3 linked regions of the Homo sapiens genome follow. The protein of the gene in region 2 interacts with the protein of the main gene of each other region in a pairwise test. Each region holds a gene or a part of one and is shown on either strand. Other genes may lie near its edges.

Region 1 (3,600 bases), on a different chromosome or scaffold from region 2:
CCTCACCCATCCACACAGTTGAGGATGCCCACAGCGCCAGTCTGAATACCAAGTTAATAGATGCAAATTCTAAAAGGCCTGATTTTTAATTGATATTTTTAAGACACAGTATCATCAAGTAAGATATTTTCAATTCACAAAAATATTGTCCTCCTTCCCGCAAATTTTATTCTCAGTTTACTTAGAAATTCAGACGCTTCCCCATCATCTCATCACTGTTGTGACTGGTGGGAATACCTTCAACAAACACAGATGACAAAACTAAGGTGTGGAAAAACGAAGCACTTAGTATAACATTTCATAATCTCTGACAAATTTACAAGTAATCAATGTGCCCGTTTTTCCTTCACTGAACAACAACAACAACAAAAAACCCAGAGTCTCCAATGATCTAGTATTCCAGCTCCGATTTCTAGATAGCTAGGCATGAAGCCTGACACTGAATCCTAAGCAACCTAAAATGCAAACAGCCACAACTGCTATGGCCAAACTGCCTGGTGGAAAAATGTCCACACACGAATTCCTTCAAATCTGCATCGTGGTCTGACTCCCACTATTTTTCGGGAGTGAAACCACTTCATGTTTCATAATCCGTGGCAACTCTCATTTTTAACACAGCCCATCATAATTCCTAACGTGCGATGCGACAACCACACAAAGGGTGTTTTGCAGCTGCTGGGAGGCAGATCGGTGCTGGGCACCGGCAGTTCCCACGCCGAGGGGCGTTCACACCGCGGCCACGCCCCGGCTGCGCTACAGGACTTCTCCGGCCCGTACGCGACCCCCAAACCCGGCCGCAGGCGCGCAAGGAGTACCAGGGCCAGTGCCCGCACCTTGCCGGGGCCTAGAGCCCCTTCCCTGCCTCTCTTCCTGCCCCCTCCCCCCAGCAAGGCTGCCCAGAGGCCTGGGGGCCCCCCAGGACCATCGCGGCGGGCTCACCCAGGCTCCTGCGCGTCAGCATTCCCCGTCTCCCGCCCTCGGCGTCAGGCACCCAGGCCAAAACCTGAGATGCGTCTTCCCTCCGCCACCCCCAAACCTGAAAAGTCATCGCCCCTCCCCGCCTGCTCCCCGACCCGGGAGTGACACCCTGCCTGGCCCTGTCCTCGCTCCTGGACGCCGTGGCACCTCGAGCCCTCGGCCACTATGCCTCAGAACCCGGGCGGGAACGGGCCGGAACAAGGGAGGGGGCGCGTTGCCATGACGACCCCGGGAGCCCCCGAGTCCCAGGCAGTCCCCGCCCATCCTGGGTTCGGGCCCCAGTTCCGACTGGCGGCCTCGGCGTCTCCCCCAGCTCCCAGTCCACCCCGCCTGGCCGCGGCCCTCAGCCCGGGACTGAGGGCCTAGCGTTCGGTTTCGGCCCGCTCGCCTTACCCATGGCGGCGGCGGCTGCGCGGTCTCGGGCGGAGGCTCCCTCGGCCTGTCCAGCAGCTCCTTCCAGGCGCTCGGCGGCCACCACCGCATCTGCAGCCAGGCCCGCTGCAGCCCACAGCGCCCCCGGCGGCGGGAGGGCGCCCGGGCGGCCCCAGGGGGAGCGGCGCCCCGGGCGGGGCGGGGACCCGCGGACCCTGCGGCGGGCGGGAGAGAAGCCCGCCGTCTCTAAGCCTCCTCGCATCCGCTGGGACCGCGAGGAGAAGGAAAGGAACGTGAAGGAGACCACATGTGTGAGGAGCCAGAGTGCTGGGCCCTCGGTCCCGTGTCCCGGGGGCTTCGCTGGAGCGCGAAGGCCGGATTTCAAGGGGCGGCCGGCCACACGCAAACGTTGCTTCCACCGGGCTGGTGGGGCCTGATCTAACACGCCTGACTACTGCCCATTCACCTTCACAAACACAAAGGGGACCAAAAGAATTTAGAAAATCTGAAGCAATTAACAGTAGGCAGAAACCTAATAAAACTAGTTAGTCCCAAATTACGACTTTTTTTTGTTTTTTGGGTTGTTTTTTTTTTTTTTTTTTTGAGATGGAGTCTCGCTCTGTCACCAGGCTGGAGTGCAGTGGCGTGATCTTGGCTCACTGCAAACTCTGCCTCCCGGGTTCAAGGGATTCTCCTGCCTCAGCCTCCTGAGTAGCTGGGATGACAGGCGCGCGCCACCCCGCCCGGCTAATTTTTGTATTTTTAGTAAAGACGGGGTTTCACCATGTTGGCCAGGGTGGTCTCGATCTCTTCACCTGGTGATCCGCCCATCTCGACCTCCCAAAGTGCTAGGATAACGCCTGAGCCACACAGCCCGCCCTAAAACAATTTGGTAAAGCTCATTACAAAAAGCTAAAGTGAAAAAAGAGAGAAAACAATTCAAAAATATTTCATTATGTGCCACAGCAATATCCACACAAGCACTAAAATTCAGACCTCGGCTGGGTATGGTGGCTCATGCCTGTAATCCCAGCACTTTGAGAGGCTGAGCTGGATAGATCACGAGGTCAGGAGTTCGAGACCAGCCTGACCAACATGGTGAAACTCCGTCTCTACTAAAAATACAAAATTTAGGCAGACGTAGTGGCATGTTCCTGTAGTCCCAGCTACTCGGGAGGCCAAGGCGGGCGGATCACCCGGTCAGAAGTTCGAGACCAGTCTGGCTAACATGGTGAAACCTCATATCTACTAAAAATACAAAAATTAGCCGGGCGTGGTGGCGCGTGCCTGTAATCCCAAGATTCCGTCTCAAAAAAAAAAAAAAAAAAGTCAGACTTCATCCCTGGATCCATCTTGGTTCACATTTCCCAGGATTATGAGCCCTAGTCATCGTAAGGGCCAGTAGTGACTCAAGTGGAATTAGATAGGCATATCCTATTAGCTAGAAGAGATTTTTTATTTTTTTCAGACAGGGTCTCACTCTGTCACTCATGCTGGAGTGCAGTGGCGCGATCTCAGCTCACTGCAACCTCTGCCTCCCAGGCTCAAGTGATCCTCCCACCTCAGCCTCCCTAGTAGCTGGGACCACAGGCGCTCATTGCCACACCCAGCTAACATTTGTATTTTTGTGCTTAATTTTTTAAAAAAAGTTACATATATATGACATATACTTATGATCCCAGTTTTAGTTTATCAATAAATACAGCAATATGAAGGTATATCTATATATCTATATATAGATATATATACATAGTTAGAAAAATAAATGCATAGGTAAGAGACTGAGTAAAGTACATGAAAATGTTAATAGTTATGATGTGTGGGTGGGGGCATTGTGATTACTTTTTTCCCTAAACTATTGTGTGTGTGTGTGTGTGTGTGTTTGTTTAGGCTTTTATTTTAGGTTTGAGGGTACATGTGAAGGTTGGTTGCATAGGTGAACTCATGTCATGGGGGTTTGTTGTACAGATTATTTCATCACCCAGTTAAGTCCAGTATCCGATGGTTATCTTTTCTGCTCCTCTCCCTCCTCCCATCCTCCACCTTCAAGTAGACTCCAGTGTCTGTTGTTCCCTTCTTTTTTTTTTTCTTTTTTTAAGACAGGGTTTCACCATGTTGGCCAGGATGGTCTCGAACTCCTCAGCTCAAGTGATCTATCTTCCTCAGCCTCCCAAAGTGTTGGGATTACAGGCATGAGCAACTGCACCTGGTCTTGCTTTTCCCTTCTTTGTGTTCATGAGTTATCATTTA
Region 2 (3,824 bases):
TCATGATCCCAGTTTTTCGGAAGAAAAATACAGACTCTGAGAGGTTAAAGAATCTGCCTAAGGTCCAGGGTGACCAACTATTTTGGTGTGCCCAATACAGGGGGTCCCCGGGATGTGAGACCCAGTTTTAAAACCTGGACAGTCTTGGGCAAAGTTGGTCACCCTAGTAAGGACACGCAGCCCATCCCTACCCTTTCGTAGGTTCAGATATGAATCCAGGTTAGTTGGGCTCCAAAGCCCACGTACTTCCCAGATTCCTGCTTCTCCCAATCTTAACTCCCTTGGAACTTCAGAAGCTCCATTATTTTTCACCCCAAAGGCTTCTGGGCCAAACCTAATTCTGGTGAAAAATGTTTAGCCTTTTATTCTATCTTTTCTTCTGCAAGTATACAAATCTTTCTAAATTCCCTAATACAAAGCAACTCCAAAACCACCACTGAGAGCTCATATGGGACATGAAATACTAATGTGAAAAATTAAAAGACAGAAGCACCAAAGAAAGGTTAATTTCTTTTAACCCAGCTTACTTCACCTCTACCATCATTAGCAGTATAACCCGTTGGGGTGGGGGGCGATGATTAGGGAACTGAAAAATAAATTGTTCTTGCCTCTAAGATACGAGGGTAGGAACGTCTAAAGCAAGCCTGTTCTCCCACCACTCCCCATCCCCACCAAGAGACTGAGATAAAGACGATCGCTGATTTAAAGCAGTAGTATAAGGCAAGGTGGTTCCACCTATGTTTTAAGGAGTGGCATCAACAGGTGGCATTTAGTGGTGGCTTGCTATGAAGGTGTGTCTAAGGTTTATACCATCAAGAGGCCTAAGCCTTGTCATTGATCCTCATTCCACTGTTAGATTCCAACCCCTCAGAACTTCAAACCTGCCCTGGGGCCTATACTACCTTCTCCACTATTACTGTCACTCAGTGTCCCCAGTCCCAGGGACCAAAAATAACGACTTAAAGGGAATAAAGAATTGGGCGTGTGTCTGAGGTGGCATCATGAGAAATGCTTTTGGCAACCTGAGTAGGAACTATCACATATAGAATGTTTCTGCAGGAAAATAGATTTTTCTAAAATCAGTATCATAAAGAAACTACTACAGCAAAACTGTATGCAAGAGAATACCTAAGTACTTCCTCAAAGGCAATAGGCTTTACTTCCACAACATCTAAGGCACTGCTCGAATGAATGTTTAATAACTATTACTGATTAAATGAATTTTCCATTCTCGCGCAATTTCACTGTTTTTCCTCCGTTCATATTTGACTGACTCCCAGCACACGACACACACAGTAAATGGGTCGGTAGATAAGCCCTACACTCCTGAACTCAAAGTGTGGTCCACGGACTAGCTGCACCTGCATCATCAGCGAGATTATTAAATCATAGCCTGCATTTTCAAAAACAAGATCCCCAGGTAAATCGCATGCACAATGAAGTCTGAGAAACGCTGCCTTAGAAGTTTGCAGTATTGCAATCCTTCCAATCCCCAACTCCAATCTCATCAGCGTGAGAAAAAAATGGAGCGCACACACACCGTGCACACGGCCAGCGACCAGCCCACGGTGGGGTTGGGACACCTGTCACCCTGTCCTCCCCAACAGTTCCCCATCCGCTCACCTTGATGCGCTCCCCATCAATCTCCACCGCTCGTTCTCGGAAATCCACCCCTATCGTGGCCTCGGTGCGGTCGGGGAAGCGGCCAGCGCAGAAGCGGTAGGTCAGGCATGTCTTGCCCACATTGGAGTCGCCGATCACGATTATCTTGAAGATGCGGGAGCGGGCAGGAGGCAAAAACCCTGAGGCCCCTGACACTGCCCCGCTGGACGAAAAGCTTGCCTCGAGCGACGACTCCATCTCCTCAGCCATTCCCCCGACCCGCCCCAAACTGAGGCGGAGGAAAGGAGACACAGAAAGGCTGAGAGATTACGCCACCGCAAGAGCGCGCGCCCAGCCGGCCAGTTCGGCTGCGCAACTTCCCAGGAGCCACCGCCCACCAGCCCCGAGCGCGCCTGCGCACCTTCCCGCCCCGCCCTTGCCCGCACAGGTGTGGCACCCGCCCGCCCCGCCGCACGGAGCCGCCTGCCCGCGGCCACACGCCAGGCGTCACTCGGGCTGGCGCCGGTCTACCTAGGCAGGCGTGGGACCTGTCGGGGGCTTCACGGCAGCGCGGAAGGCCAGCCTGCAGAGAGGCTGGGCCCAGCGCCCTGACTGACCCAGCCCCGCCACGTCCAAGGTTCCCGCCCTCTGGAGGAAGCCGCGCAATCACTCCGGGGGCGGGGAGAGACAGACAACTGAGAGGAAGGAGGTACCACGGGCACTCTCTCGCGAGAGGGCCGCAGAGCCGCCTTTGACGGGGGCGTGTACCTGGAGAGCAACGGTAAGGACGGAGCCGACGGCTCCGGCGTCGGGTCGGTTCCGGCATCGACGTATCGTTTGGTCGCCCCAGAGAGGAGACAGGTTTCTTCAGCTTGCCGCTGAGGATGTGGCATCGGCTGCGCTCACCGCCGCCGCCTCTGTGAACTGCGGGAGTTGGGACAGCGGCCAGGGCTAGATGGGTGGGACGCGAGTCCTCGCCGAAAGCTTGCCCTGTGCGGGGCGCACTTGGAGGCGAGCTCTGGGCCGTGGCGAGTTTTGCAGCCTAAGGTCTTGGCAGGCGCATTGCTGTGGGCTGCCGGAGAGCAGGCTGGAGTTCGAGACCGCCCACCGGAGAGCAGGCGAGAGTTCGAGGCCTAGGTACAGCGCATTTCGCTAGGCATCCCCAAGAATATCCGCGTGATCCTTGTGGCCAGAGTTTGTTGAGCTAATATCCCCAGCCCAAACAGTAGAGCACATCACATGTCGGCCACCTGGGAGCGTTGAACCTGGTAGTTACTAGGCGCCCCTGGTGGAAATAAAACTCATTATGCCCTAGTTATGTCTTAGTGCCTGGGTGACGATGATGTAGCGGTTAAAGATTAACTGAGCGCACTTAGAGGTTGTCTTTGTCTACCTAAGGAAAATATCAATAGATTAAACCCCCAACCTTAAAGAATCTCCGTGAATTTTTCTGAGGAAACGTGCAATATTGTCATACAAAAGGCCCCAAATATGCAAACATTGCTTTTTGTTAAAAGTTTGTTTTGTTTTGCAGTGACATCTGTTTGAGCAGATGAATATGCCATTGGGAAAGTCAAGGACTGTCGGAGAGGAGGACATGGCAGACCTTAACTAAAGTGAGGGGGACAGTAGAGCACTAAAAGTTCTAGGAAAGGAGATGAACTGCTTATTCCATCAGATGAAAATATAGTCAGAACAGATGAGTAGTAGAACTTAAACATGCCCGGAGTTGCCAGGAATTTGCAAAAGCCTTGATATAATTCCTGTTGCTGTAGAAAGACTTTCTACAGTCACTAATATATCAAGTTATGTTCACTAGAAAAAAAGTTTACTTAGTTTATAGAAATGGGCTGAAAAATCCTAATTACTTATCTGTGAGGTTATTTTCATGAAGGTTAATCATCCAGAAACTATTAGAGAGCCTCGGAATATATTTCTTCTAATCTGCTCTACCTATCCCATTCAAAGGAGGGAATCTGAAGATTTAAGGACAAAGAGCAGTTGAAAACTCAGAGCTGTGGTTAATGGGAGAATTTCAAGGATGGTGAAAAAAACTAACATCATTGCATCCCTGTTTTTTGTATTCTGGACTTTTTAGTTTAGCTCTTGGTAAACTACATCAGAAATTCTTTATGCTAACTCTAACACACATTTTGGGGTATTGCTAATTTAATCTTTGAATACTGTTTTTGCTGTTTCATGATTATATGTTATGTCCTACC
Region 3 (3,824 bases), on a different chromosome or scaffold from region 2:
AGCCGAGCCCATCAACCTGGACAGCTGTCTCCGTGCTTTCACCAGTGAGGAAGAGCTAGGGGAAAGTGAGATGTACTACTGTTCCAAGTGTAAGACCCACTGCTTAGCAACAAAGAAGCTGGATCTCTGGAGGCTTCCACCCTTCCTGGTATGTTACGGTCCTGCCTCTGAGAGAGCAGGAATCTAGCATAAAAGAAAGAAGACATGAACAAACAGGAGGTTTTGTTATTTTTGAGAATAAGACTTTTCCTGCAGCAGTGTTTAAAACACATTCTGTACAAGGTTTTTATGTTGAATACAGAGATGAATCTTTCTACAAATATTTGGTAGTTCCTTTTCCTAAAAAGCTCATAACCTAGAAGAAGAGATCAATCATGTAGCCCAGTAACTGCAATTCAGTGCGATGTGAGAACTGCCACAAGGGGTACAACGTGGTGAATGTGAACTTCAGGAGAGGGTGAACTTCTGGCTCTGTGGAGAGAGGAAGCTTAGGCTAGCCCTTTGTGGACTCTAGAAGAGCAACTGAGCCCGGGGGCAATACCCACTGCACATAGTCACGTGGCTGTGGCCACACTGCTGAGTTGAGCGCGTGTGCACAAGGACGCCAGTGCACTAGGGCCTGTGTAGAGGCCTTTATGAAACCATATTTTTGAAGTCTTTAAAAAATAATGAAGAGTAAATGTTCTGTTATATATTTCCAAACATTCACATGTATTTGACTTGTTTTTTCCATGTAAATTTTGTATCTTCAGAACCCTTTAATGCGATGTTTTCTACCTTTACTTCTCCAGATTATTCACCTTAAGCGATTTCAATTTGTAAATGATCAGTGGATAAAATCACAGAAAATTGTCAGATTTCTTCGGGAAAGTTTTGATCCGAGTGCTTTTTTGGTACCACGAGACCCGGCCCTCTGCCAGCATAAACCACTCACACCCCAGGGGGATGAGCTCTCCAAGCCCAGGATTCTGGCAAGAGAGGTGAAGAAAGTGGATGCGCAGAGTTCGGCTGGAAAAGAGGACATGCTCCTAAGCAAAAGCCCATCCTCACTCAGCGCTAACATCAGCAGCAGCCCAAAAGGTGAGGCCTGGGGGCCTTATGCAGTTGCTTTCTTGGGACTCCTGTAGGCTACATATGTTTCTCTGTCTTCTGTTCTGGAACATCAGGTTGGTTGGGTGGAAGGAACCTATCTGGAATCAGACCTATCTGTATTTGAGCTATGTAAGTTGTAGCAAGAGATTCAGCCTCCCTGAATCTATTTCCTCATCTGTAAAATGGAGATAATGCCAGGTTTACAGAGTTGAGAGTTTGACACATGGAGAGTAAAGCACTTCACACAGTGCCTGATGTATGGTAAACAGGAATGGTAGCTGCTGTCTTGTCCCCTTATAGTGAAAGTTCTGAGGTTCCCCATCTTTCAGGGGGTCTAGAGGATCAAAACTCCTTTTTTATTTATTTATTTTATTTTTTGTTTTTTTGAGACAGGGTCTCACTCTGTCACCCAGGCTGGAGTGCAGTGGTGCAACACAGATCACAGCTCACTGCAGCCTGGACCTCCTGGGGTCAATCAATCCTCCCACCTCAGCTTCCTGAGTAGCTGGGACTACAGGCATGCACCACTGCACCTGGCTAATTTTTGTATTTTTTGTAGAGATGGTGCTTCGCCATGTTTCCCAGGCTGGGCTCGAACTCCTGCACCCAAGTGAACCTCCTGCTTCGGCCTCCTAAAGTGCTGGGATTACAGGTGTGAGCCACTGTGCCTGGCCCAAAATGATTTTCATAAAAATACTGAGAAAATATGTGCTTTTTCACTTTTTTTCTCTCACAGATGTACAATGGTGTAAGAGAAAACATGACATGGAATAATATCGTCACTTTGACAGTGAAGTCTGTGCTAATGTATTGTACTTTTTCATTCCTCAGTTTTAATTTCTAATACAGGAAATATTGATAGATAAAATTCACATAAAAGTTCTAAAGGTTCTCAATAATTTTTAAAGGTATAAAAGGGGGTAGGGGTAAGAGGCTATAACTAAAAGGTTTAAAGCCTTGCAGGATTTTTGTGAGACACAGAGGTAACAACGGACAGCAGGAAATTCCCAGTACCATGCCTAACAATAGGAAGTACTCAGTAAATGGTGGTCACATTTTTTGTCTAATTTTACAAAGGAGAGGAATATGTATTTGGAAAACTCCTTACTCTAATAGTTGGATTTTTTTCAACTGAATCATCATAAATCATAATCATCTTTCTGCTGTTTTCTGAGTCCCTATAATGCACTTTACATTTTCAGGACATTGTTGCTTATAGGGACTTGGCATTGAAGAAGACAAAAATGTAACTTACTGGCTACACAATAGGAACCAAAGGGTAGCCAGTCATGACTCCCCTGTCTTTACCTTTGTGTGTACAGTTGCAAAGCTAACCTCGGAGTTAGCATTTGGGGCTGGCTTACTTTCTGGCATTTGGATTTGTGAATCTTTTCTTCTGTCCTGTTCACAGGTTCTCCTTCTTCATCAAGAAAAAGTGGAACCAGCTGTCCCTCCAGCAAAAACAGCAGCCCTAATAGCAGCCCACGGACTTTGGGGAGGAGCAAAGGGAGGCTCCGGCTGCCCCAGATTGGCAGCAAAAATAAGCCGTCAAGTAGTAAGAAGAACTTGGATGCCAGCAAAGAGAATGGGGCTGGGCAGATCTGTGAGCTGGCTGACGCCTTGAGCCGAGGGCATATGCGGGGGGGCAGCCAACCAGAGCTGGTCACTCCTCAGGACCATGAGGTAGCTTTGGCCAATGGATTCCTTTATGAGCATGAAGCATGTGGCAATGGCTGTGGCGATGGCTACAGCAATGGTCAGCTTGGAAACCACAGTGAAGAAGACAGCACTGATGACCAAAGAGAAGACACTCATATTAAGCCTATTTATAATCTATATGCAATTTCAGTAAGTGGTTTATTATACGGTTTTCAGAGAGTGGTCTGTGTTTTGTTCACTTGTCTTCATGTATTCATCAGCAAGTATTTTTCAGGTCCTGCTAATTTCCTAGCATTGAGCTTAGTGATAGACAAAGTTAACATTGAAATCTGGGCTCACAGATGTGGTGTGGTGGCTCACACCTGTAATCCCAGCACTTTAGAAGGCTGAGACAGGAGGATCGCTTGAGCCCAGGAGTTTGAGACCAGCTGCTTGGGCCCCGTCTCTACAAATAATTTTAAAATGGAGCGAGGTATGGTGGCATGTGCCTGTGGTCCCAGCTACTTGAAAGGCTGAGGCAGAAGGATCACCTGAGCCCAGAAGGTCAAGTCTTTAGAGAGTTGTGATCACTCGACTGCACCCCAGCCTGGGTGATAGAGCAAGCCCCTGTCTCAAAATAATAATAATAATAATAGTAATTACAATTATAAAATGATTGTTTATCCACACAAGACTTGGAGCTTATGACTTTTGTATTTTGCTTTTTGCTTATTTTGGTTTTAGAGAAAGAGGGTTCTAAAATATTTTCTCACCTATTGATCATTTACATGATCAGTGTTCTCCTGCTCAGATCTTAGTGCTATACCCTGGCCATAGTACAGTTAACTACTAACATACCTCCACTCTCTTATCTCTTACAGTGCCATTCAGGAATTCTGAGTGGGGGCCATTACATCACTTATGCCAAAAACCCAAACTGCAAGTGGTACTGTTATAATGACAGCAGCTGTGAGGTAAACATTCTCAATCTTTGAATGAAAGTTAGAATATCAACAGAACTGGGGAACATTTGTTGAAATAATGGACTATCTCTTGAATAGGAAATAGATATTTCTGTTAGAATTAATATATAG

The links.
Region 1: the proteins of RAB33B (region 2) and RUFY2 interact in binary tests that used the Homo sapiens proteins (3 or more experiments, as listed by UniProt).
Region 3: the proteins of RAB33B (region 2) and USP6 interact in a two-hybrid assay, tested with the Homo sapiens proteins (one study listed by BioGRID).

The regions. Positions count from the first base shown.
Region 1 is NC_000010.11:68,405,815-68,409,414, forward strand, and holds the start of RUFY2 (RUN and FYVE domain-containing protein 2), read right to left. Parts: upstream 1,464-3,600; 5' UTR 1,376-1,463; coding exon 1,372-1,375; exon of another isoform or gene 1,049-1,371; coding exon of another isoform or gene 940-1,048; exon of another isoform or gene 11-939; coding exon of another isoform or gene 7-10; intron 1-6.
Region 2 is NC_000004.12:139,452,244-139,456,067, reverse strand, and holds the start of RAB33B (ras-related protein Rab-33B), read right to left. Parts: upstream 1,948-3,824; 5' UTR 1,892-1,947; coding exon of another isoform or gene 1,873-1,891; coding exon 1,624-1,872; intron 1-1,623. UniProt on the Homo sapiens protein: The small GTPases Rab are key regulators of intracellular membrane trafficking, from the formation of transport vesicles to their fusion with membranes.
Region 3 is NC_000017.11:5,167,976-5,171,799, forward strand, and holds part of USP6 (ubiquitin carboxyl-terminal hydrolase 6), read left to right. Parts: coding exon 1-148; intron 149-791; coding exon 792-1,080; intron 1,081-2,503; coding exon 2,504-2,940; intron 2,941-3,611; coding exon 3,612-3,704; intron 3,705-3,824. UniProt on the Homo sapiens protein: Deubiquitinase with an ATP-independent isopeptidase activity, cleaving at the C-terminus of the ubiquitin moiety. Catalyzes its own deubiquitination. In vitro, isoform 2, but not isoform 3, shows deubiquitinating activity.